Linked DNA regions of Homo sapiens: regions 2, 3 and 4 are each linked to region 1. The links come from fine-mapping of genetic effects on gene expression. A gene starts in region 1. Each other region holds a variant in brackets. All regions are shown on one strand. Distances are between the middles of the regions.

Region 1 (8,107 bases):
AGCAGGGTCTCAAACAGATACTTATGCACCCATGTTCATAGCAGAATAGCCAAAAGGCGGAAAAAACTCAAGTGTTTGTTTATCAACAGACAGATGAAGCAGAATGTAGTAGATACATAAAATGGAATATTATTCAGCCCATGACTTGTGCGCCTCTGGTCCACATAACAACATTAAGATGGTCTGCAGGACAGACAGAATGGAAGATGTATGCCGGGCATGGTGGCTCACTCCTGTAATCCCAGCACTTTGGGAGGCCAAGGTGGACAGATCCTGAGGTCGGGGGGTTGAGACCAGCCCGATGAACCCCATCTCACTAAAAATACAAAAAATTAGCCAGGCATGCTGATGCATGCCTGTAATCCCAGCTACTCGGGAGGCTGAGGTAGGAGAATCTCTTGAACCGGGGAGGCGGAGGTTGCAGTGAGCCGAGATTGCGCCATTGCACTCCAGCCTGGGTAACAAGAGCGAAACTCTTGTCTCAAAAAAAAAAAAAAAAAAAAAAGAATGGAAGATGTACTAATCTTGGTTCAGAAAGACAGAACCAAAAGGATATAGATAGATATATGAGCAGGAATTTATTAGAGGAATTGGCTTACATGATTATGGAGGCTGAGAACTCTGATGATACACCCTTCGCCGGCTGGAGAGCCTGGAAAGCTGGTGGTGTGGCTCAGTCCAACTCTGAAGGCCTCAGAACCAGGGAATAGGATGGCATAACTCTGAGGCAGTAGGCCTGAGAACCCAGGAGGCTGCTAGTGTAACCTGGAGTCTCAACGCCAGAGCCTGGAGTTCTGATGTCCAAGGATGGGAGAAGAGTGTATCCCAGCTTCAGGGCACAGAGGAAACCACCTTTTTGTTCTTTCTGGGCCACAGCTGATTGGACGGTTGCCCACATCAAGGGTGGATCTTCCCTACTCAATCCACTGACCCAGGGGCAATCTTCTTGGGAAACACCCAGAAATAATCCTTTGTCAGTTTTCCAGGTAATCCCAATCCAGTCAAATTGACACCTAAATTTAACCAGTCACACTTTTTTTTTTTTTTTTTTTTTTTTTTGAGACGGAGTCTCGCTGTCGCCCAGGCTGGAGTGCAGTGGTGCGATCTCGGCTCACTGCAAGCTCTGCCTCCCAGGTTCACACCGTTCTCCTGCCTCAGCCTCCCGAGTAGCTGGGACTACAGGCGCACACCACCACACCTGGTTAATTTTTTGTATTTTTAGTAGAGACGGGGTTTTGCCATGTTGACCAGGCTGGTCTCAAACTCCTGAGCTCAGGTAATCCAGCCACCTCGGCTTCCCAAAGTGCTGGGATTACAAGCTTGAGCCACCACGCCTGGCCAACTATCCACTTTTAAGCATGGAATGCAGATCAGGATCAAGAATTTAACCTTTTTTTTTCTCTTCTGTAATATGAGATGAGTAAATCAGAGAATTCTTAGGAAGCATCATGGCATAGCGATTCAATGCACAAGCTCTGAAGCTGGACCACATGGAGTAACAACTAAATCCTAGTTCTGTTATTGATTAGCTTTGCAATGTTGAGCATGTCATCTTACCTCCTGTGCTTCAGTTCCCCGCTGTGTAGATGGAGATAATGGTATCCATCGGGGTTGCTGGGAAGATTAAATGAAGTATGTTTGGTCCTTAGAATAGTATCTGGCACACAGTAAGTGCTGTTAGTTACTATTATGGTGAGCTAGGGCTAAAATTGAAAAATTAATTTAAATTTATCATAAAGAATTCAGAATACAGTCCTCGGCATGTAAATGATCAAAAAACATAGATTTGGTTGTTGTTGATAACAAGCCACTGTGCTTTATTTGAATAATTTGGGTTGGTAGGGTACACTTTGAGGGGCTCCAATTGGGTGAAAATTAACAACTATTTTAGAGGCAAAAGGGCTTCTTCAAAATTAATCATACTGCTTTATTTATTTTATTTTATTTTTGAGACGAAGTCTCACTCTGTTGCCCAAGCTGGAGTGCAATGGCGCGATGTCGGCTCACTGCGACCTCCACCTCCGGGGTTCAAGTTTCACTATGTTGGCCAGGCTAGTCTTGAACTCCTAACTTCATGATCTGCCCGCCTCAGCCTCCGAAAGTGTAGGGATTACAGGCGTGAGCCACCGTGCCCGCCCCTATTTTCTTAAAAAAGGAGGAGAAAGGAAACTGGTAACTTATTTTGATCATCCCCTTGGCATGGCAAAGTCACATCTAGCATGAGGCACTCTTCATTTCTGACTTAGAAGGTTTAAGAAAGAATGAAATGAGGCCGGGCGCGGTGGCTTACACCTATAATCCCAGCACTTTGGGAGGCTGAGGCAGGCGGATCACGAGGTCAGGAGATTGAGACCATCCTGGCTAATATGGTGAAACCCCGTCTCTACTAAAAATACAAAAATTTGCTAGGTGTGGTGGTGCGTGCCTGTAATCCCAGCTACTCGGGAGGCTGAGCCAGGAGAATGGCTTGAACCCAGGAAGCAGAGATTGCAGTGAGCCGAGATCGCCCCACTGCACTCCAGCCTGGGCAACAGAGACTCCGTCTCAAAAAAAAAGAAAAAAAGAAAGAAAGAAAGAATGAAATGCCCATGAATACCAATTGATACTAAAAGCAAAAGCTACATCTGCTTCTTTATTAGTCTTAGCAGTAATTGCCAGTGTTTAAGTAGCATATTGGCATCTACTTAGCAAGCGTTATCTGTATATTACTGGCTGGGACTATGACAGAAGAAAAGGCAAATATATACTCTAAAAATTATTTGGACCACGTTCCTTTGCGTGGCTGATAGCATTTGAACTGAATAGTTGGTAAAAAACAAAAAACAAAACAAAACAAAACAAAAACCAGAAGTGGAGCCAAAGTGATTATGGGCAGCTGCGTGCACCCTGTTGCACCAGGCCGACTTCTTTGGACCTTTCCATAGCTAGGAATTGCAGGCTTCACTTACTCCACCGCACGTGTCTGATTCCTTCCCTAAGGCGGCAGGGTGGGAAAGGGAAGGTCGTTAGAAACTGTGACAGGGAGTCTCGGGAACGGTTGCCTATTTAAATAGCGAGTGAAAACCAGGCAGAAATGTTTGCCGGCTGTAAGCAAAGCGAAGAGGTTACTCGTCAGTGATGAGCGGAGAGGGAGAATTACGGGATCACCTGAGCTCAGGAATTACCAGCGCCGCTGACACCTGCAGCAAAATTTTCCATGAACAGACGGCATCCTGTAGAGGAGGAGGGGAGCGTGGGAAAGAGAGGTGTGCACCGCGCTGGGTCGCGCCCTCTCCCCGTGGGGCCCCGGCCCGGACCCCGCCCCCGCGCTGTGGGTGGGCGCCTCCCGGCTGTCACTCAGCGGCCGCGGTGGCTCCGGGCCCCGCCCGACACGCACTTCAGGGCGGCCCCGCCCCGCCCGCGTCAGGCTGGCCAGGCTTCAGTCACAACACGGTGGGGCTCCCTGGCTGCGCCCGGCCCGGCAGCTACGGGCCCAGCGCCTGGTGGCGGCGCTGAGGGGTCGCCGAGAGGGGCCCGGCGGCGTCTGCGGGGGCCGCTCCCTCGGTGGGCCGCGGGCGAGGCATGAGCGCGGGCTCCCCCTGCCTCCGGAGCGCCGGCGGGGGACCGGGGGGCAGGAGATGTGCCTGTCCTTAGCGGCCCAGGAAGCAGCATGCACCCCGATGCGACCGACAGTGGCGGCGCCGGCCCCAGCCCCGCGCGGGCCGCAGGCGCCGGCGGCCGTCCTGTCTCGGGCTTCAGGGGCGAGCGGCGGCCGGAGTCCCCGGGGGACGCGGAGGCAGCAGCAGCGGCGGCGCCGGGGGCCCCGGGCGGCCGGAGCTGGTGGAAGCCCGTGGCGGTGGCCGCACTCGCCGCCGTGGCCCTCTCCTTCCTGGGGCCCGGCAGCGGGGAGGCGGCGGGGGCCGCGGGGCTGAGCTCCGTCCTGTTCAGGCTCAGCCTGTACCTGAGCTGCGCGGCGGCCGCCTTCCTGCTGGGGATCCTGTTTGCCCTCGTCTGCCGGAGCCCGCGCGCCCAGCCGCCCGACTTCGCCGCCGCCTGGAGCCGGCTGGCCGCGACCTCAGCCGCCCGCCGCCCGCCGGGGGTAAGTACCCGACTCCTGGCCGCCCAGCTCCGCCGGCCCTCCCCGCTTCCGGTGCCAGCTCCCGCGCCCCGAGCTCCGGGGGGCCGCGGCATGCCCTTGTCGAAGCGGGAAGCCGGGAGCCAGGGGGCTGGGCTGCGGGCCCGGCCGTGGACGCGAGCGTTCCCCGGCGCCCGCGCGCGGCGGGCTCCGGGCTCCGGGCTCCGCGCTCCGCGGTGCTGGAGGAGATGCGCGTTATTTACTGGGCTCTGTAGTCACTCGACAACCATCCTCAGTCACAACCCTAAGGGTGTCCCCAGACCTTCGGTGTCGCTTGCCGTGGGAGGGGAAGAAGGGAATCACAGCGTTCGCTACGTGCAGGCTCTGCGCACGGTCCTGGCGATCCGCTTGGTTCTTCTGGCCGTTCTCGGTGGGAGGCAACTTTATGACCGTTTGCCGATGAGGAAACTTGCTTCGGTCCCTGGCCCAGCGCCTCACCCCCAAGCCCGCGTACCCTTCCCACCACCCTATCCTGCCTTCCACCATGCGGATACGTATTATAGTTGTGCAGTCCCCGCTGGCTTCTGTGATTTGGAAGGGGGATGCCAGAAATCACTGGTTTGCAACAAAAGGAAAGCCATCCTCAGCGCGCTGTGGGACACTAGGGCGGGGGTTAGGGAATGTAGGAAAGAACAGTGTTTTAAATGAGCGCTTCTCTTCTTCAGTGCCAAACCCACTGCCCCATCTTTCTTCCACATTCCTTCTCATAATCCTTTAAAGGGAACTTTATTCTATCCCAGCTTAACACTCACTGCTTGACTGAGTGATACCATCATTCTAATGAAATTGCCCAAGCGCTTTGGGGTAAGATAAATGGCAGTGGCTCAACTTCATAAGAATATTTGTTAATGATCATTTGTCCCCAGGGTTTGTATTTGCTTATCACATGACCTGCTCACTCCTTTATTTTAAAAGAAAGCACCACACTTCACCAAACTACTCTGAGTGTGTTAGTTCAGAATGCAGCGCTGAGATAATGGCGGAAGGCATTAGTAGGTAACAGACATTTCGCTCAGTAGGCTGATAAACAAGGCAGTATATTAAGGAGCAGGCAACTCCTGTTTTTAGAAGTGGTCTCAAAAATTAGTAAAGTTGGTTTCTCTTACAAAATCTCCACTTAGCCATCCGTTTTTCATATCTCATTTAGCAGGAGTTGCGGAGCAGATATGTCTCTCCTCTTTTTTTCTACCATGGCAAGTAAGGACCCTGAGATTTTACTAGTTTGTTTGTTGATCAATAAAATATGTCTTAGTTCTTGAGTACTGTAAGATGTTATAATTCATTCGGTAAATATTTATTGAGCATCTTGTGTGAGCCAGGTACTGTTTTGGAAGCTGAGTTTGAATCAACAGGACACATAAATATCCTGCTCTCTGGAGATCTTATGGGGGAGCAGGCAATAAATAAATACTGTGGGATAGTGATAAATGCTTTTGAAACAGTGATTAAGAGGTAAGAGATGAAGAGGGACTAGTAGGTGAGGGAAGGAAGTTTAGAGGGTTAGGTCAAGATCAAAGTCCTGGTATTGCAGACCATCTCCCAGGGCATTGAAAGCCTCCTGTTGTGGGTTAGCACTCTGTTTCCTGGAAAATGCATTCCCGCAAATCTCCCAGCTCACTGGCACCTCTGGGTAGGTAAAACGTGGATTATCATCTAGAAAGATTGTTTAGTAGAGGAGTTGGAGAAAATAGTATTTTAAAGGTGACAGAGAAAATGAAGCAGCATGTATAAATCTCTCATGAATACTACCCGAAGATTTCAGGTAATAGAAGAGGGGAAGTATAATCTAAGGAAAATGAATATTGGTAATTATTTTTGTCCTTGAATTCCTAAAATAGCCTTAAATAAGAAATTAAGTGCATTAGGGGCTGGGCACAGGTTTCACCATGTTGCCTAGGCTGGTCTTGAACTCCTGAGCTCAAATGATCCGCCCTCCTCAGCCTCGGAAAGTGTTAGGATTACAGGCGTGAGCCACTGTGCCTGGCCTAACCCTGCCTCTTAAAAAAAAAAAAATTTTTTTTTAAATTTTTTAAGTGCATTAGGAAATTACATTCTAAGTTATATATTGCTTAGAACTGAAATACATGTCATTCACATAAAATTCTATTTTCTTTGTAGTACTGGTACTGTTTACTCAAGCCTCTAGTGCTGTATTTCCAATAATTTGTGTGATGTGTGTGTGTGTGTGTGTGTGTGTGTGTTTTTTTTTTTTTTTGCTTTGAGACAGGGTCTGCTCTGTCGTGCAAGCCACCACGCCTGGCTAAGTTTTTGTAGAGACAGGGTCCTCAAGTGATCCTCCTGCCTCAGCCTCCCAAAGGGCTAGAATTATCGGCGTGAGCCACCGTGCCTGGCTGTGTGTGCTTTTTAAATGTTCTCTTCTTTATGAATGGAAGAGTGGGAAGCAGAAGCATGTGGTGTAGTATAAAATATCTACAGTCAGTGCTGTGGGAGCTGGACCACACAGGTCAGCTAACATATGTGGAGGGGGAGGCTGTTTAGCAGTGAACCAAATGGAGCTCCTTAGAATAACAGTGACTGCTACACAAATTTGGATTCAGCGTGAAGAAGAGAATCCTCATTTATCCTTATATATTTTGAGTTCTCCTAGTGTGAGCTAGACATGTCAGACACTGGGATCAGTCCTTCTAGCTGTATATCCTTCCTTCCCTTGTTTTTTCTTCTTGACTTCTTTTGGTAGAGGAAAAAAATGCATACACTGTTAAACATAGGCAACTAGAGAAACCTCACTGAAAAGGGAAAGGGTGTTTTTATGTCTAGAGGTTTTCAAATGCTTCTGAATACTTCATAGTGTAATAGTTATCAAGTGTAAACTGCCTGTGGTTAGGACCTATAATTGACACCTTTTGTTATCACTTACACCTAGCAGGAGCTCAAGAAGTGTTCGCTGATGATGGTGAAGAACGTTATGTCCATTTATGGTCACTAACTTAGTGCTTTTCCCTTCCAATTGAGCTTGTACCTGTTGAGCATCTCCTATGTACATGGATTTTGATTTACTTGGATGAGAATCACTGTTGATTAAAGTTGTAAAAATAATTTTCATCTCAGATAGAAACTTCATCCCAGACTTCCGTGGTATCTTCAGATAGCACAGAAGGTTTTGTGAAGGTCAGGAAGGTTGTTGCTGAAGTCTTGACAGATGATATCTGGATCCCAGTTTAGAAAAACTTGGACTCTTGTTACAGGTGAGCAGAGCGGAGCGGAACTGTGATGCTCTAGGGCCAGCCTGCTGTTGGGGTTGACAGTTGTGAGTCCAGCTTTGTTGTGTGGGTTGTCAGAGTGTGGTGTCCCGTGTCCAAGGTTGTCTTTCTATCTTCTGCCAGGCCAGTTAACTCACCTGGGTCTGAGCCTCAGATTTACTAGCCACAGTTACTTGACCCCAGCACTTGATCCAATCAAAACAACAGCAAGAGAAATAGGGCAAGAATGAATCCATAGTTTAGAAAAACTTACTATCATCATAAGATCAGCAATTCAAAGTACATCTTCTCACAGTGGAAAAGAGGACACCATTTCTTACGTTTTGATGGTAAGAAGGTAAAAGAGAATAACTTTGTCAGTTTTTCTGTTGTGTAGTCTAATACAGATTTTTCTCTTTTCTTTTTACCCTGTGGTTTACTAGATCCTTTTTTTTTTTTTTAGACAAGGTCTCGCTCTGTTGCTCAGACTGCAGTGCAGTGGCCTGACCGTGATGTAACCGAGTACCCCTACTTTCCTAAGAGATGGTTTAATTATTTCTCTCTCTCTTCTTTTTCCCCCAGTTCCCCACTTCCCCTTTAGAAATGCAAATATAGCCTGTTATCTCCCCTTTAGCAGACTCTCCCTGTAGGGCAAGTTCATCTACCCGCTAACATGCCCAGCCCTTAGAGACTTCTTATTTATGTCTCCTAAGTTAAAAAATAAATAGGCAGTTGCCAATGAGGATTGGAGGGCTGATACAAGAAGTCCACAGAAGTTGGGTGTCCTGGGCAT
Region 2 (8,107 bases), 57 kb after region 1:
AAGGAGTAGCATCTTAATCTTACTATATTGAAATATCAACCTAGCTGGCAGCAAAGCTAGAGTTTAAAATAATTGAAGATGCCATTTTTAAAAAGTCAGCGTATCAGTATATGCATAAAGGCTTATTCTAAAAATTTCCTTTCATGTTGCTGGCTTTACACATTAGGATAGAATTCCTTCAGGTTGTACAAGACAGAGGAAACCTTTCTTTTCTAGCGTTATACACTCTAGAAACTAGTTTCAGTCTCCAGTGCAAAATAAATTTCAGTTAACACCTGAGAGGCATGGGTCCTAAAGGTACTAATATGCACTAGTTTCATTTCCTGTGCAGTACCTAGTATGTTTCTCTCCCTCTGCTTCATGTTTTTTCTCATTGTTAGCTACTAGTTACTGTAAAAATCTCTTATACTTTGCCTCCTCATCTAGAACATATTAGAAAACGCAGCATCCCAGGCTTTCTTGAATCACTATCAAGATACTATGGGAAGGGAAGTATAGAAAGTTCTGTTTTCCAGTCCTCTTCACTCAGATCCTCCAAATTAATGTTCCTGGGATGGAGTCAGTACAGGGAAGTGCACAACCAAGGTTGTCAAGACTGGTTGAAAAATACTTTGGAGCCTCACAGAAGGCAATTTGCCATCAAATTAGATAACGTCGAGTTTATAGACCCTCTAGCTCACTAGAAATACCTGTAGACTTTTTATCCTATTATCTCCCAGTCAGAAAGCAGGCTGGCAACCCTGGTTTATGCTTTGTTAGGTTTTTTTGAAAAATGAAGCTGCAGGTCATATTTAAGAAAACATCTAGAAGACTTAAAAATTACTAAATAAATACTCGTACCTTTTTAGATTGTTGCTGTGATTTTGGAGTTATATAGACCCTTTGATGCTACTGAAGTTCGTTGTTATGATTTCATTTGAAATCCAAAAAAGGCCATGCATTTGCATTTATTCTAGCAAAAGTTTTCCAGATGAGTTGATGGTTGAGGAAATTTGATTATTTAGGAGATGGCAGTTACTATAACCAATGTGTTTCTCATTTGAAATATTTTTTACCTAATAGTACATAATTGAATTGTTTCTAGAAACTTCTTTCCTTCTTTTTCACTCTCTTTATTTAGACATGAAGAACAGCCAAGACCTTTTGTGTTGCACGCATGCTTGAGGAACTCAGATGATGAAGTAAGATTTCTACAAACGTGTTCTCGGGTTCTGGTGTTTTGTCTCCTCCCCTCAAAGGATGTGCAGTCTCTCAGCTTACGTATAATGCTTGCAGAAATTCTCACAACAAAAGGTAGACTTATACAGTTGATTTCACTAATTCAATAAGTGTGCAAACTAATGTGCTACATGCAGACCTTGTTTACTGTTGAACATATGGGATTTGAAGTATTTTCAAAATCTTGTTTATATGTCTCTAAAACTATTTGGCCATTCAGGATAAACTTAAATTTTTAATATGACATATCGCCAAATGCACAGTCCATTAAGTTGCATGTTTTGACATAGAAAACAAGTTTTTATGCTCTTCACAGGGAAGCATTCATTTGGGATAGCTTTTGAGTTATCTAGGCCAATAATATATACATTAATGAAAGTATGTGTATGTGTGTATAATATCTATATAATATCCATAGTATGTATGTTTATATATTACGTGTGTGTGTGTGTTCAAATTCTTTTTTTTTTCTTTAAATAGAGATGGGGGTCTTACTATGTTGCCCAGGCAAGTCTTGAACTCCTGGGTTCAAGTGATCCTCCCACTTAGGCCTCCCAAAGTGCTGAGATTACAGGTGTGAGCAACCATCCCTGACCACAGTCAAATTCTGATTAGCATATTTACTTAAAATATCTTTGCTATATGATTTGTTGATAATGCGTATACAGTAATGCATTGCTTAACAACAGGGATGTGTCCGAAGAAATGTGTCATTAGACAATGTCATTGTGCAAATATCATAGAGTGTACTTACACACCTACATGGGATAGCCCACTACACATGTGGGCAATATGGTGTAACCTATTGCTCCTAGACTATAAACCTTATACCATATTACTGTACTGAATACTGTAGGCAATAGTAACACAATGATATTTGTGTATCTAAGTATAGAAAAGGTACAGTAAAAATATGGTATAAAAGATAAACAACAGTACACCTATATAGGACACTTACCATGAATGGAGCTTGCAGGACTGGATGTTGCTCTGAGTGAGTGGGGAGTGACTGTGAAGGCCTAGGACATGACTGTGCACCACTGCAGACTTCATAAACAGTGTACGCTTAGGCTACACTACATTTATTTAAAATTTTATTTTCTTCAATAAATTAACCTTAGCTTACTATAACTTTTTTTACTTTATGAACTTTTAATTTTTTTAAACTTTTTGACTCTTTTGTAATAACATTTATCATCATTATCAAGTATGCACTGTACATAATTGTATGTGCTGTATTTTTATACTATTGACAGTGCAATAGGTTTCTTTACACTAGCTTGACCTCATTAAATGGTAGAAAATTTTCAGCTTCATTATAATCTTATGGGGGCCACTGTCATATAGTCAGTCTGTTGTTGACCAAAATGTCATTATGTGGCGCATGACTGTACATAATTTTGTGAACTTGGAATATGTAAAAAGGAACTGTACCACAATATAATGTGATTACTAGAAAAAAGTTAACTATATCCAGGGAAATGCTTAGTCAGGATAAGAGAAACTTTCCCTATCTCAGTCTCAGACAAATAGCATTGCATTTGAGATGCAGTGATTATCTCATTTACTATCTCAGGATAAGCCAGCTGTGCCCATCAGCTATTATAACCAACCACAGAGAAGAGAGGAAGTTTCTAATCTCAAGTTACAAGGATGGCTTTGTAATAGTGTCATTGACTTTTTAACTTCCTCTCTGAGGTCTGTTTTAACCAGTTGGGGAGAATGTTGACTTTCATCCTTTGGCAGACTAAGCTTGTCAAAACGTATTGAGCCTTATAAAATAAGTAAAAGAAAAAAATCAGTGTTTTTTTGGTTGTTGTAATTTTGTGGTTTTTTGTTTTTTGAGATGGAGTCTCACTCTGTCGCCAAGGCTGGAGTGCAGTGGCGAGATCTCGGCTCACTGCAACCTCTGCCTCCCGGGTTCAAGCAATTCTCCTGCCTCAGTCTCCCGAGTAGCTAGGATTACAGACATGTGCCACCATGCATGGCTAATTTTTGTGTTTTTGGTAGAGATTGGGGTTTCACCATGTTAGCCAGGCTGGTCTCAAACTCCTGACCTCAAGTGATCCACCTGTCTCAGCCTCCCAAAGTGCTGGGATTACAGGTGTGAGCCACCACGCCCGGCCTTAATTTTGATAGATTTGTTAGCAACTTGAGTTCCAAATGACTTCCCTTCATGATTCTTTTACATTTCACTTATTTATTAAAATGACAACTTGATTATAGCCATGGATGATAACATATTTGGAGGGATAGGCAGCTGTATGTGTGCATGTGTGTACATTTTTGAATTGTTTATTGTATTATATAGATATTCCCCTGTTTGACTACTTGAAAAATGTTTCCCAAATGTAGTCTCAGTTATGTGATACATAAACAGTTCCCTTAAAGAAGAATACCTTTCTCAGTGGCTATTTCTTCTTCTTCCTGTAGTCTTGAAGCCGGTAGTGGAGTTACTGAGTAATCCAGATTACATTAACCAAATGCTGCTTGCCCAGCTGGCGTACAGAGAGCAAATGAATGAGCATCACAAGAGAGCCTACACCTATGCCCCCTCTTACGAGGACTTCATCAAGCTCATTAACAGCAACTCTGATGTGGAGTTCTTGAAGCAACTAAGGTATTTGGTCTTCAATTATAGCACAGCAACAGCTACTGATTATCATCCCCTGCCTAGTTAGGTTAAAAAAAAAAAAAAGTAGTTGTCAGGGAAGCAGAAATAAAACAAGTCTATAAATCTTACTATTTAGTGACAGCTAAATTTATCCAGCGTCTCCTTAGCAGTGTAATTAGAATGAATTTTTTTAAAGTATTAGGTTTTTCAAATACAGTTGACTCGAACAATTTGGGGCACCCACGCTCCCCACCGCCCCCACCCCCAGTCAAAAATCACATATAACATTTGACTTGGGCCAAGCACAGTGGCTCAAAAGTGCTGTAATCCCAGCACTTTGGGAGGCTGAGGTGGGCGGATCACTTGAGGTCAGGAGTTCAAGACCAGCGCGGCCAACATGGTGAAACCGCATCTCTACTAAAAATACAAAAATCAGCTGGGTGTGGTGGCACATGCCTGTAGTCCCAGCTACTCAGGAGGCTGAGGTATGAGAATCACTTGAACCTGGGAGGTGGAGGTTGCAGTGAGCTGAGATCACACCACTGCACTCCAGCCTGGGTGACAGAGTGAGACTCCTTCTAAAAAAAAAAAAAAAATTGACTCTCCAAATACTTAACTACTAAATACCTTACTGTTGACCAAAGCCTTACTAATAACATAAACAGTTGATTAGCACGTATCTTGTGTGTTATATGTGTTATATACTGTATTCTTACAATAAAGTAAGCTGGAGAAAAGAAAATATTATGAAAACCAGAAAGAGAAAATATATTTACTATGCAGTAAGTGGAAGTAGATCATCATAAAGGTCTTCATCCTCATCTCTTCACATGGAAGTATGCTGAGGAGGAAGAGAATGAGGAGGGGTTTGTCTTACTGTCTCAGGTGGCAGAGGCAGAACAAAATCCTGTGTAAGTGGACTCA[T/C]GCAGTTCAAACCTATGTTTTTCAAGAGTCAGCTGTAATGAGGCTATAATAGACTGAAAGCTCTTCAGATGTCGGGAGTACCTGCTTAGCTGCTCAGATGACTACCTTAGAAAAGCACTGGAAGGACATCAGAAGGAGAAGATGTGTTTCAAATTACAGAGTAGAACATTGTGTTGGTTTTTGTTTGTCTTGGACAGTACAGAGGCTTGGGTTTGGGAATAAGAGGTTCTAGATTAATTATTTTGAGAAAACACATTTGAAAATACCATAGGAGTATCTTTTATAGGGGAGCACAGTGTCCCTTGTTATACCTGAGATATTTTAGGGGGTGTGTATTTTTGTGTATTTTTAATAGTATATACACATTTAGTATGATTATATAGTATTATCTAGTTTGTAAATTTTCTAGGCTTCTGTTTCTCTACCCTTCTTTTTAATGTTCCCAAATGATAATATAGGGGAAAGAAAGAAAACTCTTATATGTTCATTTTGCTTTTCATTAATAATTTTGGTAAAACCCTGATGGAAAAGTAAAATATTGGTTGAAATTGGGTGTTTGAATTAGTCGAGGTTTTTAAACTTGTGACATTTGCTTTTGAACTAGGGTTAACATTAAGATGACTCATGCTGTTTAATTTTCTGATTCGAATAAAGCACCATCTAAGGAGGCATAGACGTAGATGGCACTGTGTTCTTATACATGGTGTCATGTGTTAATCTAGGTGTCACAAATACATAATGACAGCTTCAATTTACAAATACATACCTCAAATACATAATGACGGGTTCAATTTACAAATATATACTCAAATATATAATGATGAGTTCAATGTAAATGGATTTGTTTACAAGGAATTTAATTTTGGGTATAATATATATCTGATGTAATATCTGGAGATTTAATGTTTCTCTTGCCATGCATAATTTTGAATAGACTACATGATATTCTTTATAGATTTGTTTTTATTTCTGTCTGAGTCTAGACATTTCTTTTTCGTAAGTGTGATGCTTGAGCTAGAACCCAAGAGCCAGTATTCCAGGTTTGTTATGTGAGGCTCACAGGTTACATCCACTCAAGTCATCCTTATCATAGTGTCCTTCGATTCCTTTTAAAGCATCATTCTATAAAAGTGAAAGAGCTCAGTGGTAGAACACCCTTGTTGCCTCTCCTCTCCCTAAAACTGTACGTACACACACACACCCCAAACTCTAGTTGTAGGGATGCTATTCAAACCTATACTCGAATACTCATCTACCTGGTGTTTTCGTGCCTGCTGTTCCTGGATTTGCTGTGCATGGTGTGACAAGGTGACATGATGACTATGCCCCACAACGTTATAAATTCTTCCTAAGTCATTGTTTATGAACAGATAACTCATGTTGATAATTTGTGGCTTCATTGAATTCCTGAGCATTTTTCTTTGACCAAATAGTCGTTCCACAGTAAAGGCAGGTGTGGACTATTTGGTAACCCCAAGTGAGTTTAAGATAACAATCTAGAGTCAATAGTGGCAGATTAAGAGAATCAGTATTCCTTGTTCTTACAGACTTGTGGATGAGTGTTCTATTTTGTGTGCCAAACTGAAGATTCCAGCACTGCACATAGGGATGTATTTAATAGTTAATGGAGGAAACAGAAAGGCATCAGAGTTTTGTTGTTGTTTTGTTGTTGTTGTTGTTTTTTAAGAGACAAGGTCCTGTGGTGTTGCCCACACTGGAAACAAACTCTAAGGCTCAAACAGTCCTCTCCCTCAGCCTTCCAAGTAGCTGGGACTACAGGCGAGCTCCTGATTTTTTAAAAATCAGAACTAGTTATTTTGAATGATCTACCACTGGTTCTCTAGCACCATCTGTTATTTTGTATCTTAACACAGTTCCTGTATTGTAAGATGAATGAATCTTGATAAGAATTAATGGTTTATCTTCTTCAAAATGTACCAGCCAAAGATTCAGAACTATTTAAATACTATATACAGTTCATCATCTGGTAGACAAAGAAGTAGCTCAAAAAAAAAAAAAAAAAATCCCAGCACTTTTGGAGGCTGAGGAGGGCAGATTGCTTGAGCCTGGCAGTTCAAGACCAGCCCGGGGAACATGGCGAAACCCCGTCTCTACAATAAAAAACAATAAAACTATGGTGTACACTGCCCCAGGATGATTGAACAGCTTACTTTTATTGCAGTAGGCACATCATGGATTGCCTTAACTTGATTGACCAAAGATTACACTGAAGTTCTGATTTTATGTTTTTCCTTTCCCTGCTACTATGTGATGAAACAAAAATAGTGTGAGCCCTTAATCTTTCTCAAAGATCGCTTCCTCTTGACGTCATAAATAGGGCAAGATTAAAGGGATAGCACCTGGGTGCCCTGGGAAGCAGGCCCTTTGGTCTTGAGCACTGAGGGACTTAAGAGGCAGTAGAAGTGCTAAACTGAAGAATACCTTTTGAAAATGAGATATAATTCACGTACCATAGAATTCACCACCTTTAAGTGTACAATTCCGTGGTTTTAGTGTATTCAGAGACTCTGATTGTCACTACTATGTAATTTCAGAATATTTTCATCACCCCAAAAAGAAACCCTGTGCCCACTAGCAGTCACTCCCCATTCCTTCCCTCCCTCCAGCCCTTGGCAACCGCCAGTCTGCTTTCTGTCTCTATGGATTTGCCTAGTCTGGACATTTCATGTAAATGGAATCATGTAGTATGTGGCCTTTTGTGTCTGGTTGCTTTCACTCATTATGTTTCCAAGGTTCATTTGCATTGTATAATGTATCAGTGCCCCATTCCTTTTTTTGGCTGAATAATATTCCATGGTATGAATATAGCACATTTTATCCTTTCACCGGTCCATGGGCAAGTTGGATTGTCTGCCATTTAAAGGATGCCTTTTGAGTGACCGTTGAGCATCTTCAGTGACGTTGTCAGTGACTGTTTACAAGTGAGAGTAAAATAAAATGTTGCAGTTCCTAACCTCTTCCTAGTATGGCCTCCTGCCACAGCGTACCCACCGCTGCCAAGGAGTGATGGGACACAGGCACCAGGAAGGTGCATTCCTTTTGTGCACTATTCCTGTTCTGTATGTTGTATATTCCTCTGTCTTCCTTCTTACTACTAGGCTTTGTGTTTCCAGCAGAGTTTGCAGAGTCAGTGGGAAGGGCACTTGGAGGTATTTGGATTAGATAATCGAGCTTGACAGGTGACTAGTCTATTAGAGGCAAAAGGGATACATTCTCAGACTTAATTAGGTTGCATCCTTTTATAAGCAATCTCAGCTCACTGCAACCTCTGCCTCCGGGTTTAAGCGATCCTCCCACCTCAGTCTCCCAAGTAGCTGGGACTACAGGCAC
Region 3 (8,107 bases), 130 kb after region 1:
GTCATATAATGTCATTTGCATAACCACATTATAAGCAAATATCAAGGTCCTGAGCAAGAGAGTGCTTTTTTTTGTCCTCATTGGTATTTAATATGGCTTATCTTTGTTCTTCCCTGCCTTTCCCTCAAGCCAGTGGCTTGACACTCTTACAGGGGTTGGGAGAGGGTCAAAATTCACGACCTTAAATTTATCTCTAGGTTGGATAGCAAAACAAAGCATGTTCTCCAAGACCTACCCTGAAGGGACACACAGTACATGAGGGCCTAACCAGGTGCCTTCTGTATGTCTTTGGCACTTGCTGGTGCTCCCATTAAGCTAAGCTGCTGAACAATACACATTTCTCCATGGAAGGCAGAGAGCAGTGGATCAGGGAAGGTCATGCCCAGCCTCAGACTCCCACATAGAAACCCTCAGTAACTGCAGATAGTTACTGTTTGGGTGGAACTGTAGGAAGGTAATGGACTCAGGGGAATGTAATGGCAAAAGCTGCTACAAGAGGCTGCTGGAGGACAGAATACAAATTCTGTTACCTCCTCAGTTTTGCTTAGAGCTGGCCCTGACACTTCACAGTGTATTAAAATCATCTTCCAAAGGCAGATATTAGGGGGAGCAGAAAGGGAAGGAAGGAGTGGAAACCATCACAAGGGTCTGTGCCCTGGCCGTCAGTTGCTGCTTGCTGAAGCACTCTGGCTGGTGAAAAGATAGTGGAAATGGGAAAGGGGCACCTGACGTCTAGAGCTCACGAAGCAGTCCCAGAAAGGTGCGGAGGATGCATTTTCATCAAGCTGGACGTGCCTGTATTCTGTGCTAGCTGACTCATCAGAGGTGTGGTCCTAGGAAAGTCAGGGACCCTGTCTGTGCCTCTACTTCCCTATCCTTACAGTGGGGTGGTAATCCTGCCTCACAGAGTGGGTGCTCAGTAAACCTCTCATCTCTTTCCCTGGCCTTTCTTATTGACTCCTTCTCTCTCATTCAATTTATGATGCTAATTCAAGCTCAAATTCAATGTATTTTCTATTGTTTTCTCTTAGCTTCTTATGTTAAGTATAGTAGTGGCCTATTCTGGATTAGTGTGTGTGTATGTGCACGTGTGCACGCATGCACACATACAATATCTCAGTTGGGAGGTAAAGGAAATTATATCTCCCAATGTAAAATTTAATGAGAATAGAAATCAGGGCTTGTTGGATCCTGAAATTAAACTGGAGGTGCCCCCATCCTTCTCTGAGAGAGTTTCTGATGTATTTGATGGCTGTTTGCTTGCTGTTAATTTCTTTTCAAAGTAACACAGGATGAGCCTGCTGTATAGTTTTCTTTTGCTGTGTAACACATTTCATGCTTAAAGCAACACCCATTTATTGGTCACACCTCTGTAGGTCTGGAGTCCAGCACAGGATGCATTGGCTCCCTGCTGATTGTATCACAGGCCGAAGTCAGTATGTTTCCCAGACTAAAGTCTTGTCTGAAGACTCAGTAAAACCCACTTCCAAGCTTATTCAGATTGTTGGCAGAATTCAGTTCCTTTGGTCATAGAACTGAGATATCTGTTTTCTTGCTGGTTTCCTTCTTGGGATTTGAATCTTTCTGACTTCCTTTCGTATCACTGGCTAGCAAAAACTCTTTGCTTTTAGGTTAGGCCCACCCAGGAAATCCCCCTATTTTAGTCTACTATGCCATATAATGTATCTTAGTTACTAGAATAAAATCTATAATATTCACAGTTCCAGGGATCCTGCAAGGTACATCACGGGGAGGGAAATCTCCTTAGGGGGACACTTACAGATCTTCCTTCTGCATCCATTCACCATGCTTTTTGTAAGTATCGATTTTGATGTTTTCCCCAAGGTTACAGAAGAGAATGGTGAGCAATTGCCATGTTACTTTGTCATGGTAAGCCTACAAGAAGTTGGAGGAGTTGAAACTAAGAACTGGACGGTCCCCAGAAGGCTCAGCGAGTTTCAGAATTTACACCGGAAACTCAGTGAGGTATGAATACTCATGAACGCAGTATTCTAGAATTACTGCACAAGAGCTCATTTCAATTTTACACATAAGAAAGCTGATTAATCTTCTTCCTTTGCTGTTGATACTGGCACAGTGGCATTTTCATCCTGACATTTGGAAATTTACTCATAGATCAAACCATCTAGTCTAGCCTAAGTCCATCAGGACAGATAACGGTCTGATTTTCATTGTAAATTGCCAGAGAACCCTAGAGCTGGAAGAGACCTAAGGATCACCTAGGTATCTCACAACTGGCAGCTGCCGATTGTGATATCTTGATGGTAGTGAAATCAGTTGTGAGTTGCAGCAGTAGAAAGAATGAGCTGCATTGGATTCTATCACATATACAAGGGAGGCAGTAAGGTGCGGTGCTTGGAGGATTCTATCACATATACAAGGGAGGCAGTAAGGTGCGGTGCTTGGAGGATTCTGTCACATACACAAGAGAGGCAGTAAGGCGCGGTGCTTGGAGGATTCTATCACATATACAAGGGAGGCATTAAGGCGCGGTGCTTGGAGGATTCTGTCACATACACAAGGGAGGCATTAAGGCGCGGTGCTTGGAGGATTCTATCACATACACAAGGGAGGCAGTAAGGTGCGGTGCTTGGAGGATTCTATCACATATACAAGGGAGGCAGTAAGGTGCGGTGCTTGGAGCACAGCCTCTAGAACCAGACTGCTCAGCTCTGACTCTCAGCTCTACTCTTCATGGCTGTGTGACCTGGAATTTATTTATTTATTTATCTATTTATTTTTATATATATATTTTTTGAGACGGAGTCCTGCTCTGTCGCCCAGGCTGGAGTCCAGTGGCGTGATGTCAGCTCACTGCAACCTCCGCCTCCCAGGTTCAAGCGATTCTCCTGCCTCAGCCTCCCGAGTAGCTGGGATTACAGGCATGTGCCACCACACCCGGCTAATTTTTGTATTTTTAGCAGAGACGGGGTTTCACCATGTTGGCCAGGCTGGTCTCGAACTCCTGACCTCGGGTGATCCACCCACCTCGGCCTTACAAAGAGCTAGGATTATAGATGTGAGCCACCTTGCCCAGCTGACCTGGGATTTATCACTCACTTGCTTTTTGTCTCTTTTTCATCAGTGAAAACGAATACTAATAGTGCCTACCTTATGGGGTTGTTATGAGAATTAAGGGAATATATGTATATAAAGCATTTATAAGAATGTGTGGCACATAGTAAACATCATTGTGTTTTTTGGTAGTAGCAGTAGTAATGAGCATTGTTTCATAGACCTTTGGTTTCAGTTTTATTTATGTATATGTATATATGTATGTGCATTATGGATTGCAATGTAGCATGCATTTCCTACTGTGAGTTTCAGTTAAAATGTTTGAAAGCCACTAATCTAGGTTAATTCTTTTATTTGAGAGAGGAGGGAAACCGATCCCAGAGCTTAACTGACTTGTCATAGGACATGTACATAGTGGCTAAATCAAGATTATTAATGGAATCTTACTTTTAGATTATTCTTCCTACTTTTCCTCAGGAATTGCCATCTTCTCTAATTCTCCTTCTACTATGGGTCATTGCCTTTTTTCCCCAGCAGTGAACAGTTCTTCAATTATTTCTACTTGAATTTAGGTCCATTTTTCTCTTGCTTAGCGTGAACTGATACTGGTGAAACTATAACTGTCAAAGGGTCCAGCTGCTTGCTGCTTGTAGAAAGAAGCCATCATAATAATAACAAGAGTGAGGCGTGACAAAAAGAGAGTGAGATTTTACTATCCATGCTAGCAAGGGGAGGAGTGGGCAAAATTCTTTCTAAAACTTTCCACCCTCAGCCAGGCATGTTGGCTCACGCCTGTAATCCCAGCACTTTGGAAGGCCGAAGTGGGCGGGTCCCTTGAGGTCAGGAGTTCGAGACCAGCCAGGCCAACATGGTGAAACCCCCATCTCTACTAAAAATACAAAAAATTAGTTGGGTGTGGTGGTGCACGCTTGTAGTCTCAGTTTCTCAAGAGGCTGAGGCAAAAGAATCACTTGAACCTGGGAGGCGGAGGTTGCAGTGAGTCAGGATCATATCACTCCACTCCAGCCTTGGCAACAGAGCAGGATTCCATTCCAAAAAATAAAAATAAAAATTTCCAGCCTTCAACTGTGGAGGGAACCCAGGGGATTTTAAAG[A/G]GAGGGTTTGGAATGCAGAAGAGGCAGCAGGTCTAGGGAGTGTCAGATGGTGTGATCTGCCCTGATGGCTCGTCTTGAATTATTGTTCCATCTGGTGAAGCATCCGGCGCCACTGTGGCCAGAGGTGTCTGGTCCGTATCAGGATCTGGCCCTTGAAGCTTCTAAGGAAATAGATGACCAGATAAGGAGCGTGGTGTGCGCTTAACAAGCATGTGGGTAAATCAGTGTGCATAAAGCATGGGAGCACGGGATGGGGAAAGAAAGGGAGTGGAGGTTCACAGCAGATGCCCAGGCTGTATTTCAGAATGAAAGGAAACACATACGCAGCCTGTCTCAAAGTTACATCTTGAGATTAAGGAGGAAGGAGGAAGGAAAACAAAGTTTGAAAACACGGTTTGAAGCCACGCTGCTCCTTTACAAAACCTCATGGGCACCTCTCAGACTCCTCTTCTATGAATGAAATGTGTCTCTTTTCTTTAACCTTGTCTCCAGAGTGATTTTTTAACCTGTTTTCATCACTACATACTATAATTTCTTCAACTGCTTTTTAAGGATAGTGACCCAAACTGAATGTCATGCATGCTACATTTCTCAGATGGCCTTTGGTCACCTTAGCACTGTGGAAAGCAAAAATTTGTCTCAGTATAACAATGAATTTTCCCCAGAGTTGTTGAGTAAAATTGATACTACAGAAAAATGTGTTGTTTTCTCTGTGGAAAAACTATTGTGAAACCAAAGTTTGTATCAAAACAGGAGGAAAAAGAGTTGAGGGAAAATTTTGAAATGAAATGTCTTTGGAAGGTAGAATTTACTTAGACAATCAAAACAATTAGATGGAAGCATTAAAAGAAACAAACATGAAAGTCCATGCCCGTCCTCTTTGTCATCTTTCCTCGTCTGTGGACTGATGGCTGGGCTATTCTCTTACCCCTGCCCTTTCCTACGGTGTGAGTTTTCCTGTTGTGAGAACCCTTCCTGTCGACAGCTGTGACAGGAAGTACCTTTTTGGGTACTTAGTGATTTTAGTCTTCCCTTCCAACTCTCACTGCCTGTTTCATTTCTCTGAAATTTCACAGAGCTGTTGTAAGCATGAAATAACACATGCTATGCTTCTAGCACAGTGTCTGGTAGAAGGGAGGACTTAATCCACAAAGGGTGCGCTCTTCGTACTATGAATATATTTTGTTAATATACTTACAATCTACAGTTTGCCACTGAGAGGCAGTAATAAGGCCAGGAGTGGTGACTCATGCCTGTAATTCCAGCACTTTGGGAGGCTGAGGCAGGAGGATCGCTTGTATCCAGGAGTTTGAGACTGGCCTGGACAACATAGACTTCGCCTCTACAAAAAATTTAAAAATTAGCCAGGCATGGTGGTGCATGCTTGTAGTCCCAGCTACTTGGGAGGCTGAAGTGGGAGAATCGCTTGAGCCTGGGAGATCAAGGCTGCCATGAGCCATGATCACGCCACTGCACTCAGCCTGGGTGGCAGACTGAGACCCTGTTTCAAAAAAAAAAAGGAAAGAAATGCAGTAATAGAGCTACAACCCAAGTTTTCTTTGTTCCCATTGTTTTCTTTTCTTTTTATTTTTTTTTGACTGGGTCTCACTCTGTCTCCCAGGCCCAAGTGCAGTGGTGCAACATCAGCTCACTGCAGCCTCCACCTCCTGGGTTCAAACGATTCTCCTGCCTCAGCCTCCCCAGTAGCTGGGATTACAAGCATGTGCCATCACGCCAGGCTAATTTTTTGTATTTTTAGTAGAGGCAGGGTTTCACCATGTTGATCAGGCTGGTCTTGAACTCCTGACCTCATGTGATCCAGCTTCCTTGGCCTCCCAAAGTGTTGGGATTACAGGCGTGAGCCACCACGCCCGGCCATTTTCTATTGTTAACTTTAGCTTTTTACAGAGATGTTAAAAACACAACACCTTCTAGTTGAAAAACTTTCTGTGAGCCAGGTTTCCATTTGTCACATCATGTGCCACCCTGCGTGGTGTGCAGATCCCTCGTACCAGCCTGGCCTTGTGACTTCCCAGCTCCCGGGGATCTGTAGGTTTGGGGATGTGCTTTAGTTTTTTCCATCAAAGTTTCCGTTCCTCCCAATTCTTCGAGCCTCATTAAGATGGGTAGGTTTTCACCTCAGAGGAACAAGTACAGGAGGAGGATATTTGTTTTGTTCTAATTGTTATTCTAAATCTTTTTTAAGATTAAAATGTAATTTCAAAATACTAACATTTCATTTTTTCCCCCCACAGTGCGTCCCTTCTTTAAAAAAAGTCCAGTTGCCTTCTCTTAGCAAGCTGCCTTTCAAATCTATAGATCAAAAGTTTATGGAAAAGTCGAAGAATCAATTAAATAAGTTTTTACAGGTAAGCAAGTGAAAAATGTGGGATATGAGAGAAAAAATTAGTTATTTAGGGTTAAACTGTCATCATTCTACGAGCTTGGTAGTTTGCTTTTTGTTCTCACAAGCCATGCTAGATGCTAAAAAAATATCTTGGGTGTTTTTTTTAATTAAAGGAAAATACACATATAAAAATACACGTAAGTGTATAACTGTCTCCGTTTCACAAACTGAACACACCCATGTAACCAGCACCCAGTCCAATGCACTGGTTATCACCAGCAGCCCCCAGCTTCCTCCCATCGCTGCAGCCCCTCTAAAGGCAACTGCTGTCCCGACTTCCAGCACCATAGATCAGTTACAGTTGTCTTTCAACTTTATATAAATGGAACCGTATAGTGTGAATTCCTTCGTTTCTGACTTCTTTCACTCATTATGTTCATAGGACTCATCCATCCTGTCATCTTAGTTGTAGATGATTCATTTTCGTTGCTGTGAGAGGTTTTCATCGTGTGAATACACTGCATTCCAAATTCATTCCGTTGTTGATGAGCCTTTGGCTCCTTTCCACTCTGAGGCTTTTACAAAGGGTGCTTATATAAACGTCTAGTACTTGTCTTTTGACAAATATCTGTCGGCTGATGCCCAGAGATTAGGATTTCTCCATTTTTCTTCATGGTCACAGCAGTTTTATACTCTCCCCAGCAGTGTGTAAGGGTTCTGATTGCTCCACATCCTCACCAACACTTATCTTTTGCGTTTTTATTCTTAGCCATTTTGGGTGTAGTAGTATCTCATTGTGTTTGGGGGGTTTGGTGTTTTTTTTTGTTTTCTTTTGTTTTGTTTTGTTTTGTTTTGTTTTGAGACGGAGTTTCGCTCTTGTTGCCCAGGCTGGAGTGCAATGGCGCGATCTTGGCTCACCGTAACCTCTGCCTCCCGGGTTCAAGTGATTCTCCTGCCTAAGCCTCCCAAGTAGCTGGGATTACAGGCGCCTGCCACCACGCCTGGCTAATTTTTGTATTTTTAGTAGAGACGGGGTTTCTCCGTGTTGGTCAGGTTGGTCTCAAACTCCCAACCTCAGATGATCTGCCCACCTCGACCTCCCAAAGTGCTGGGACTACAGGCGTGAGCCACTGTGCCCGGCCATTTGTTGTGTCTCCTTTTCTATTGTGCTGCTGCTCATCCTTTCCATAATGTTTTATGGGTTTGTCCATGTTCTGGATCTGAGTTCCTTGTCAGATCTTACGTGCTACAAATATTGTCCCCCTTTCTATGGATTGCCTTTTACTTAATGATTGCTTTTAATGAACAGATGTTCTCAATTTTAATTTAGCCCACTTTATCATTTTTTTTATCTTATGGTTAATGCCTTTTGCACCTATTAAGAAATCTTGGCCTACTCCAAGGCCCTGAAGATATTTTCTTAATTTCCTTTAAACACTTTATTATTTTCTATCAGTCTGTTTTTAAATAATAAGGCCAAAGGTGTACTGTCCTCAATAACAACCACTTTTTTTTCCTTTGCTGCACCATCTATATTCAGAGTATAATTGTTAATCACACTTTGGATCTTAAAGCCCTGAAGTTCTCAGAGGCATGGAACTTTGCCTCA
Region 4 (8,107 bases), 730 kb after region 1:
GAGTTAAGAGAAAGTGAGTAAAAGTGTGTGGAAAAGAATTCTTATATGAGATTGCCCTAGAGTACATCTTAAGGGAAGAACCTGTCTCTCTCTCTCTCTCTCTCTCTCTATATATATATATATAGATAGATATAGATATAGATACAGATATATATTTAGTGTGTGTGTTTATTATATATTTATTTATATATGTGTGTGTTTATTATATACACATAATAAACACACACCTTGGTAAACCACTTGGAGGAAGGGGCCCCAAGATCATGAGGAAATGAGCTGACTCAGAAGCAGCTGAACAGCAATGCTTGCGGGATTAGGAGGCATTTGTCAGAGGGGCAGCTACGAAGGGGGCAGTGGAGGGAAAAAAGGATGGATCCCCTGATATACTGAAGAAATCTTGCAAAGGACAGTGGAGGGTAGAGAGTAGGGTGTTAAGTCAACTTTTAATAACCACACACGGTTTTGACATGTCCACTGCTGCTTGTCTGCAAGCAGAAGTGGCGTGATTCGATGATAGTCTTACTTCTGGATGGCAAGGATGATTTTTTGGCCAGACAATACTGTTATCATTAACAACAACAAAATCCCCACACATTAAGTACTGGGTTGGCTGAAAACAGACCTATACCAAATCAACACCTCACCATTAAGGAGCTAAGCCTACCGCACGGCATTTTCTCTTTAGCCAGAGCCAAGATTTTATGAGAAAATATGAAGAGAACAGAGAGTTGCCGGAATGCAATGTCACTGCATTGCAGGGCTGTATTTGTTGGCAAGCATCTGAGACCAGCCTCTGCAAACTGCTGTAGGCAGGGCCTGGCCTAAAGCGGATGAGCCCCCCTGGGGCTCGGTTGCCCTGGCCACACCATGATCCTTCTCTATGACTTACCCTCTGAAGAAAACACAGCTTTTCCTAGCAGCTAAAAAACAGTTTCTCTAGACTTTTATCTTCCATGATAAATGCAGATGTTTAAGGGTCATTTTGTAAATTATCCTTCTACAATGTTTTCAGTTCTCAATAATCAACTACTTGATACTCACGAGAAAAGCAGAATTCTTCTTAAGCCTTCTGATTCAAAATGCTTCTCCTAAAAATGTCTTCCTCTGCTAATAAAGTGTTTCACATCATTACAACACGGAGAAAACATGTAGATCCCAGGCAGTCCAGGCTATGATGAATATCTCCAGCTTTTCAGAAAGACAAAGTTGATTCCACATCACTGTGACTCCTAATGACCAGTTGTCTCAAGGGAGGTCTGAGTCACAGTCCCAGCAGTGTCTCCAAAGGCAGTACGGTGCTCATGGATAATTACAGTTTCATATGTTGGTAAAAACACAATCCACCCAGTGATCTCATGTCTACTCGAACGTTACAGCAGTTCTAGAGTATCGCTGTAGAATCATCGTGAACTGTGGTATTTTGCAGTAACCATTAAAGTACAACAGTGTTTGAATCATCTGTGGGTCTATTCGTCTGCTTGGGCTGTGATAACAAAGTACCACAGACAGGATGGCTTAAACATCCTGTGAGAAATGCATCCTGTGAGAAATGCATTATCTCACAGTTCTGAAGGCTGGAAGCCTGAGATCAAGGTTATAGCAGACTGGTTCCTTCTGAGGCTGTGCGGGAGAGTCTGTTGCTTGCCTTTCCCCTTGCTGGCCGTCTTTGGCTTCCTTGGCTTGTAGACGCATCACCTGGATCTCTGCCTTCATCTTTGCACGGTATTCCCCTTGCGCGTGTGTCCATGTCCAAACTTCCCCTTTTTATAAACAAGGACACCACTTATATTGGATCAAATGCCCACCCCACTCCAAAATGACCTAATCTTACCTAATCTGTTAATTTACCAGCCACTCATTTCCCAAAAAAAGTCACATACGTAGGTACTGGAGGTTAAGACTTCAGAATATGAATTGGAAAGGAAACAGAATTTAGCCAATATCAGTGGCATTTCAGTGAAAGTAGGCCACCTGATATGAAGACCCTTCTTGAAAAGATTACAGAGCTTAGGAACATAAGTTGACCTCCAACTGGCTTTAAAGTCTCTCTATAGATGGCCTGCTAAGCTGCACACTTTCCAGAGACTGTGGTTTTGTTCTCAATCAAAAGTCTTTCCTTCAAAGCATTTTTCCCCATAGGAAAAAATAAAATCTTTAGGGAAGACACATCCGTCAACTTTTCCCAGTAGGTTTCATTTAAAGTCCCTCTCTGGTTGGCACTTTTGCTGACTGATTTCTCTTTTAACCCTCATGTCTTTTCCCGCATGCCATTGTTGGATAATATAGCAATTCGAACACTGTTTGAATAACAATCTAGAGGACAAGAGCCTTTCCTGCTTTCATTCATTTATTCATTCCACAGATGATTTTCAGAACCGCTCTTCATGGCGTGACCTCTGTAAGCCCTTCAGGATAAAACATGAATAAGGCACTGTCCCTGCCACGCAAAGGCTTGCACTCACCAGTGAAACAGAATGAAGACACCCTTCTAGAATAAAGGCATCCAATTTGCTTTTGTTTAGAAAACTCTCACCCTTCCACAAAGCAATATGAGATTTTACATATTAAAGAACAAAAAAATTTTGGTCAATCACGGTGGCTCACACCTGTAATCCCAGCACTTTGGGAGGCCGAGACAGGTGGATCACCTGAGGTCAGGAGTTCGACACCAGCCTGGCCAACATGAGGAAACCCCAGCTCTACTAAAAATACAAAAAACAACAACAACAACAACAACAAATTAGCCAGACATGGTGGCGGGCCCCTGTAATTCCAGCTACGTGGGAGGTTGAGGCAAGAGAATCGCTTGAACCCGGGAGGCGGAGGCTGCAGTGAGCTGAGGTTGCACCACTGGACTCCAGCCTGGGCAACAGTGAGACTCCATCTCAAAAAAAAAAAAAAAATGAGAGAGAAATCAAGGCAGTTGCTGACATTCAACTCTAATCAGATACTCAAGACGGGGTCTGTCTTTCTAAACACTGTTCTGTGGCCCCCTCTGTGCATCCCTAGACTGCTCAAGGAGAAGATGCTTGATCATGGCTCTTCGGGATAGTTTGTTACTGAGTCAGGTCGCTTCTCCATAATTTGCACTTTAGGTGTTTTGGATAGTACCTTCTATGTATGAAATATGTTCTGCCTTTCTGTTCCAAGTCAAATCATTACAGATATCAAAATCAGCCAACAATCAAGGCTAATGTAGCTCTTTCCCCAGTTCTTAAGAAAAATCCAAAGAAACACAGTTTGTACCCACAAACCAATAGGCAATGTATCAGTTAGTAAAACCCGATCCAAATTCAATAACTGAGAAGTTTTTCTGGTCCTTAAGGCACAAGGGGTTCAATCCCAAGTATCTACTATTTCCACAAGCTTCTGTCCCACCATAAAGGGGCTGAGTCTCAGCTATCAATACCACATTTTAAATTTATTATTTTATGCTTAAATATCACTTATCTGTAACAAGAAACTCAAAACTAAGCCATGGGAGATAACACGTTTAAGAGACTCCTTGACTTTTGCATCAGTTTTCTCTGCCCCCATAAGCTTGTTGAGATATAAAGCAAGATAATGGCAAACACAAAAATGTCTCTCACTATGTCCCAGCACTATTCCAAGTGCTATAGCAATATTAAGACATTAGATCATTAGAACAAACTCCACCAAAAGGCCAACATTTTACCATGAGTAGCCATTGTTAGTACCCAAGAACTAGTTCTTTAGACATACCAACTTTAACTAGGGTATTGATAGGGCTAATTATCACCAATTTGAAGCTGTCCAGTTAAAACCTAGAACGGTGGGCTGTTTTTGAGATATGTATATGGGTGGAAAACATGATTTACTCTCCACAGAGACACCAATAATCAATCAGAGCCGTAGTTGGTAACACAGAGCATCATGGGAGAATGTGGAAAAGAGACACAGGCTGCCTTTGAAAATTAAGTGGGAGAGTAGTGAACAGGTATGTTTTCTTTTTCTTTGTGACATGGTCTCACTGTCACCCAGGCTGGAGTGCATTGGTATGATCTCGGCTCACTGCAGCCTCTTTCTCCCAGGCTCAAGTGATTCTCCTGCCTCAGCCTCCTGAGTAGTTGGGATTACAGGTGTGCACCACCATGCCTGGCTAAGTTTTGTGTTTTTTGTAAAGATGAGGTTTCACCATGTTGCATGTTGGACAGGCTGGTCCTGAACTCCTGAGCTCAAGTGATTAGCCCGACTCGGCCTCCCAAACTACTGAGATGACAGGCGTGAGCCATTGCACCTGGCCAACGGTAAGTTTTCAATGAGGAGACAC[G/A]TGCTATTCAAACTTAGTCCCATATTTAGTTGTGCGAAGAGAAGTAAATATAAAGCCTTCACAAGAAAAGCACCAAGGCACATGGTTTATCCTGGCTCTGGTTGGCTCCAGTTTCACCCACCCTCCATCCCTGCAACAAATATTTATTGATGGCCAACTGAGAGTGGGCAGTATCCTCAGTTCCAAAACTACAAAGGCTGAATGCAGTTGCACATAGGCAATGGGTACTGAAACCATCAATTACACAAAGTTATAAAGTACGTATGGGAACTCACAAACAGGATATTTAGGAGAAGGAGGTGGTGGGAAGCTTTCAAGACAGAGAATTGAATGTTCATAAGTGTGACATATTCAGAAATTAATTTTTAAAGTAAATTTCCTCAAATCTAATCTAAATTTTAATTCTGAATTCTTCAAGCTGACCCTTGCCACCATTGATAATAGTGTGATAACCATAAATCCCATATTTCTGATCATTCCCAGTTTTGAGTATTCTGTCTCTTTGTCAAGTCACATGTCCCAATTTTAGGGCTAGAAAACATGGTCATCACGTTGATTAGAAATGCAATTTACAGAAGATTTCCCTTTCCGTCTGCTTCTAAGACTATGCAAGAGTCTCCTTTCACCTCCCACACTCAGCTTCTGCTCTCACTACCAACAGCACAGCATGCACGGCACGGCACAGCATGGCACGGGCTGTCAGTTTCACTGAAGGTGGAAATTCCTCAAGAATGCCTAATTAGAATGTTTTAAAAAATAAATTCAGCTTCTTAGACAGTAAGAGGACTACCTTCTAAAAGATTACATAGCACAGTTATTTTAATTCCAAATGTAATTGAAATTCCACTCAGAATTGTCTTCTTGAATGACAAGTCATTCTATTTCAACAATGACATTGACTGATTTTAATTATGACATGGTTTCCTGTCAGCCTGGTGCTTGAACCCGATTTTAAGGAAAACTCATTCATCTCGTGCTTCTGCCAGTGAGTGAGTGAGTGAGTGAGTGAGTGAGTGCTTCACGAGAACTGGAGGAGCATGTTTCCTACGCTTTGAGAAATACATGTGACCTTTTGAAAAGTATATCAAGTTCTGCATTGTACTAGCAGTCTCACCGTGGGTGAGGCAATTTCTTGAAACTTCTGTTTATTTACTCTTACAGTGAGATAGGTTCAATTTTTCTTAACAGAGCTATTGTTAGGGTGAAATGAAGTAGCTGCTTAGCCATGTATCTGAATCCAAGATTTTTGCTCTTTATTGACACCATAATGCCTCAATCTTAAGGTTGATGGGCACTAAAGTGCTTAACTTCAGAAGTGGAGAACTCCATATTTCCTGAGCCCAGGAACAAATGCACTAAATCCTTCGTCAAAAAGTACCTCTAGGTCTGTCCTCCTGCCCCAAAGTGATGAAAGATGCATTTAGCAGGGCTCTACATCCTTGGTTCAGTCCTCCTACAGGCTCCTGATTCGAAAGCTCACCAAGTGATGCCTCATTAAAACCACTTTATTTTAGCTGGAAGTGGAGGGGAGGGGGAAATGAGGAATGAGGAAGCAATGAACACAGAATGATGTGAAGAGGGATGCTGCCTCAGCAGGGACCGGCATCCAGCCCCACAGGTGCTGTGCTGTGGAGTCGGCTCCAGCATCTACTCCTTTCTGTGCTATGTAAGTGGAGAATTACACATCTCTTCAGAGTTGGAATATCTTCTCCTCTCTGCCCCTTCAAACTCAGTGTCATCTTTGGAAATAGCAGCTCACACCACTACTGCTGTTCAGAGACTGTCAGTGGCTGCCTGCCTCCTAGGTTTTAGAGAAATCATTCTTTTTTTTTTTTTTTTTTTGAGATGGGGTCTTGCTCTGTCACCCAGGCTGGAGTGCAGTGGCATGATCTCGGCCCACTGCAACCCCCACCTCCCGGTTCAAGTGATTCTCCTGTGAGTAGCTGGGATTACAGGCACCTGCCACCATGTCCAGCTAATTTTTGTATTTTTTGTAGCGATGAGGCTTCACCAGGTTGGCCAGGCTAGTCTCGAACTTCGGACCTCAGGTCATCCACCCGCCTCGGCCTCCCAAAGTGCTGAGATTACAGGCGTGAGCCACCACGCCTGACCAAGAAATTATTCTTAACATTTTGTAGTTCAGATATTCTTTTGATAATCTAGGGGAACCTAGGATCCTCTCACCCAGAAAAATGTAGACACATACACACACACACACACACACACACACACACACACACACACACCCTTTTATTCTAGTTCCATGCTCTAAAACTTGTCCACAAACTCCAGACTGAACAACTTGCTCAGGAAGATCAGAACTCAAACTTCTTATCCTGCGTGTCAAAGCTCTCTGTAATCTCACCATTCATCACCCAAGACTTGACCATTTCTGAGATCCCAGTGGAAAGCATCCACTCTGATAATTATCTCTGATCATTCCAGGCAACTTATCCTAGTATCTACACTCTGGTTACGTTCCACCTCCCCGAGAACCCCAGTGCACCAACCCTATGAGTTTCCCGCCTGTCAGCACCACTCCCCACAACTGCTTTCCCCCCCAGCAGCCTGGAGGCCAGAACCCACCAGTGCAAATGTCCCTTCATATTCTGCCTTCATCCCCTGCTCCTCTATTCTCCCCCTGTACACATGCCTGGCAATACACCAGTCTGTTTACATTCAACCCTCTAACTACATTATGTCCGCTTCAAAGCACGAAAGCAACAAAGAAAAAGGATGCAAATGTGCTGATGGGTCTCACTTTTAAAGACATCACTACGCGGCTCAATCAGTATTTAAAACTGCCTGGTGATTCTAACAGATTTCCCGATAAATACTCCTGTTCTCTCTCCTAAAGGAATACTCAGTGCCTTTTTATCTTTTGTTCAGCCCTTTAACCTCTGCGCCCTGGCCATATGTTGATGGTCTTGCTATATACTTTAAGAAAATAGAAGTATTCTGACAAAAATTACTTTATTTTTCACCCTGAATGCACCATTTTACCTAAATTTCTCTCCTCTCTCATTTTATTGAACTGTCCATCCTTCTCTCATCAGACAAACTGACCCATTGTCAACAGTGTATTTTACCTCTTCCATTCCTCAACAAATTCTTCCGTGCAATTGTTCCTAATATCCCACTGGATCATCAGTTTCCTTCTCTTCACTGGAATAGTTCCATCAGCATTCAAATATGCTGTAATACTTCCACCTTAACCAAAAAACAGTGTGTTCTTTGGCCCACGTCCCTCTCTGACTGCTGCTCTATTTCTCCCTTCTCCTTCCCAGGAACAGTTCTCCAAAGAGGTATCTGCACTTCCTGTCTCAACTTTCTTTTTTTTTTGAGATGGAGTTGCACTCTTGTTGCCCAGGCTGGAGTGCGATGGCGCGACCTCGGCTCACCGCAACCTCTGCCTCCCAGGTTCAAGCGATTCTCCTGCCTCAGCCTCCCTAGTAGCTGGGATTACAGGCACGTGCCACCACGCCTGGCTAATTTTGTATTTTTAGTAGACAGGGTTTCTCCTAAAGTTGGTCAGGCTGGTCTCGAACTCCCAACCTCACGTGATCTGCCCGCCTCGGCCTCCCAAAGTGCTGGGATTACAGGCATGAGCTACCACGCCTGGCCTGTCTCAACTTTCTTAACGCCCATCCACTGTCTCCAGAATCAACTCCAGAAAGCCCTTCATCCCCATGCCCCCAGTGAAACCATTCTCATCATAGTCACCAACACTCTCCACCTTGTCAAATCCAGATGTCTGTCCAGAGTTCTCTTCTTACTTGACCTCTTGGTAGCATTTGACCCAGATGAGCCGCACCC

Which allele goes with the higher level. Positions count from the first base shown, and alleles are read on the strand shown. Sizes are in standard deviations (SD) of each study's normalised expression. Not every link is listed here.
For the expression in prefrontal cortex of the gene that starts at base 3,421 in region 1, allele G in region 4 goes with a lower level than allele A (large effect, 1.2 SD a copy in ROSMAP).

The links. PIP is the estimated chance that this variant, and not a neighbour inherited with it, causes the effect.
Region 2: its variant is the best candidate, but not a certain one, in a credible set for the expression of SNX25 in whole blood (INTERVAL, PIP 0.51).
Region 3: its variant is the best candidate, but not a certain one, in a credible set for the expression of SNX25 in tibial nerve (GTEx, PIP 0.78).
Region 4: its variant is the best candidate, but not a certain one, in a credible set for the expression of SNX25 in prefrontal cortex (ROSMAP, PIP 0.56).

What each region holds. Positions count from the first base shown.
Region 1 is chr4:185,206,178-185,214,284 of GRCh38, forward strand. SNX25 (sorting nexin 25) reads left to right here and starts at 3,421. Exons shown (of 19, transcript NM_001378034.2): 1 at 3,421-4,078. The coding sequence starts at 3,650. It also overlaps a transcript of CFAP97 not described here. RefSeq lists silencers at 3,120-3,699, 3,810-3,969, 4,040-4,229 and an enhancer at 7,703-8,022.
Region 2 is chr4:185,263,318-185,271,424 of GRCh38, forward strand. It overlaps SNX25 (sorting nexin 25), which reads left to right. Exons shown (of 19, transcript NM_001378034.2): 4 at 1,121-1,293; 5 at 3,652-3,838. Among named protein-coding and RNA genes, the nearest start is that of SNX25, 58 kb to the left of the region's middle. RefSeq lists an enhancer at 2,561-3,062. The variant T/C (reference allele first, on the strand shown) is at 4,757.
Region 3 is chr4:185,340,131-185,348,237 of GRCh38, forward strand. It overlaps SNX25 (sorting nexin 25), which reads left to right. Exons shown (of 19, transcript NM_001378034.2): 12 at 1,846-1,986; 13 at 6,407-6,520. It overlaps LOC124900827 (a long non-coding RNA gene), which reads right to left and starts at 1,857. Exons shown (of 3, transcript XR_007058416.1): 1 at 1,781-1,857. RefSeq lists enhancers at 1,625-1,674, 2,055-2,174. The variant A/G (reference allele first, on the strand shown) is at 4,152.
Region 4 is chr4:185,931,895-185,940,001 of GRCh38, forward strand. It overlaps a transcript of SORBS2 not described here. Among named protein-coding and RNA genes, the nearest start is that of SORBS2, 120 kb to the left of the region's middle. The variant G/A (reference allele first, on the strand shown) is at 4,292.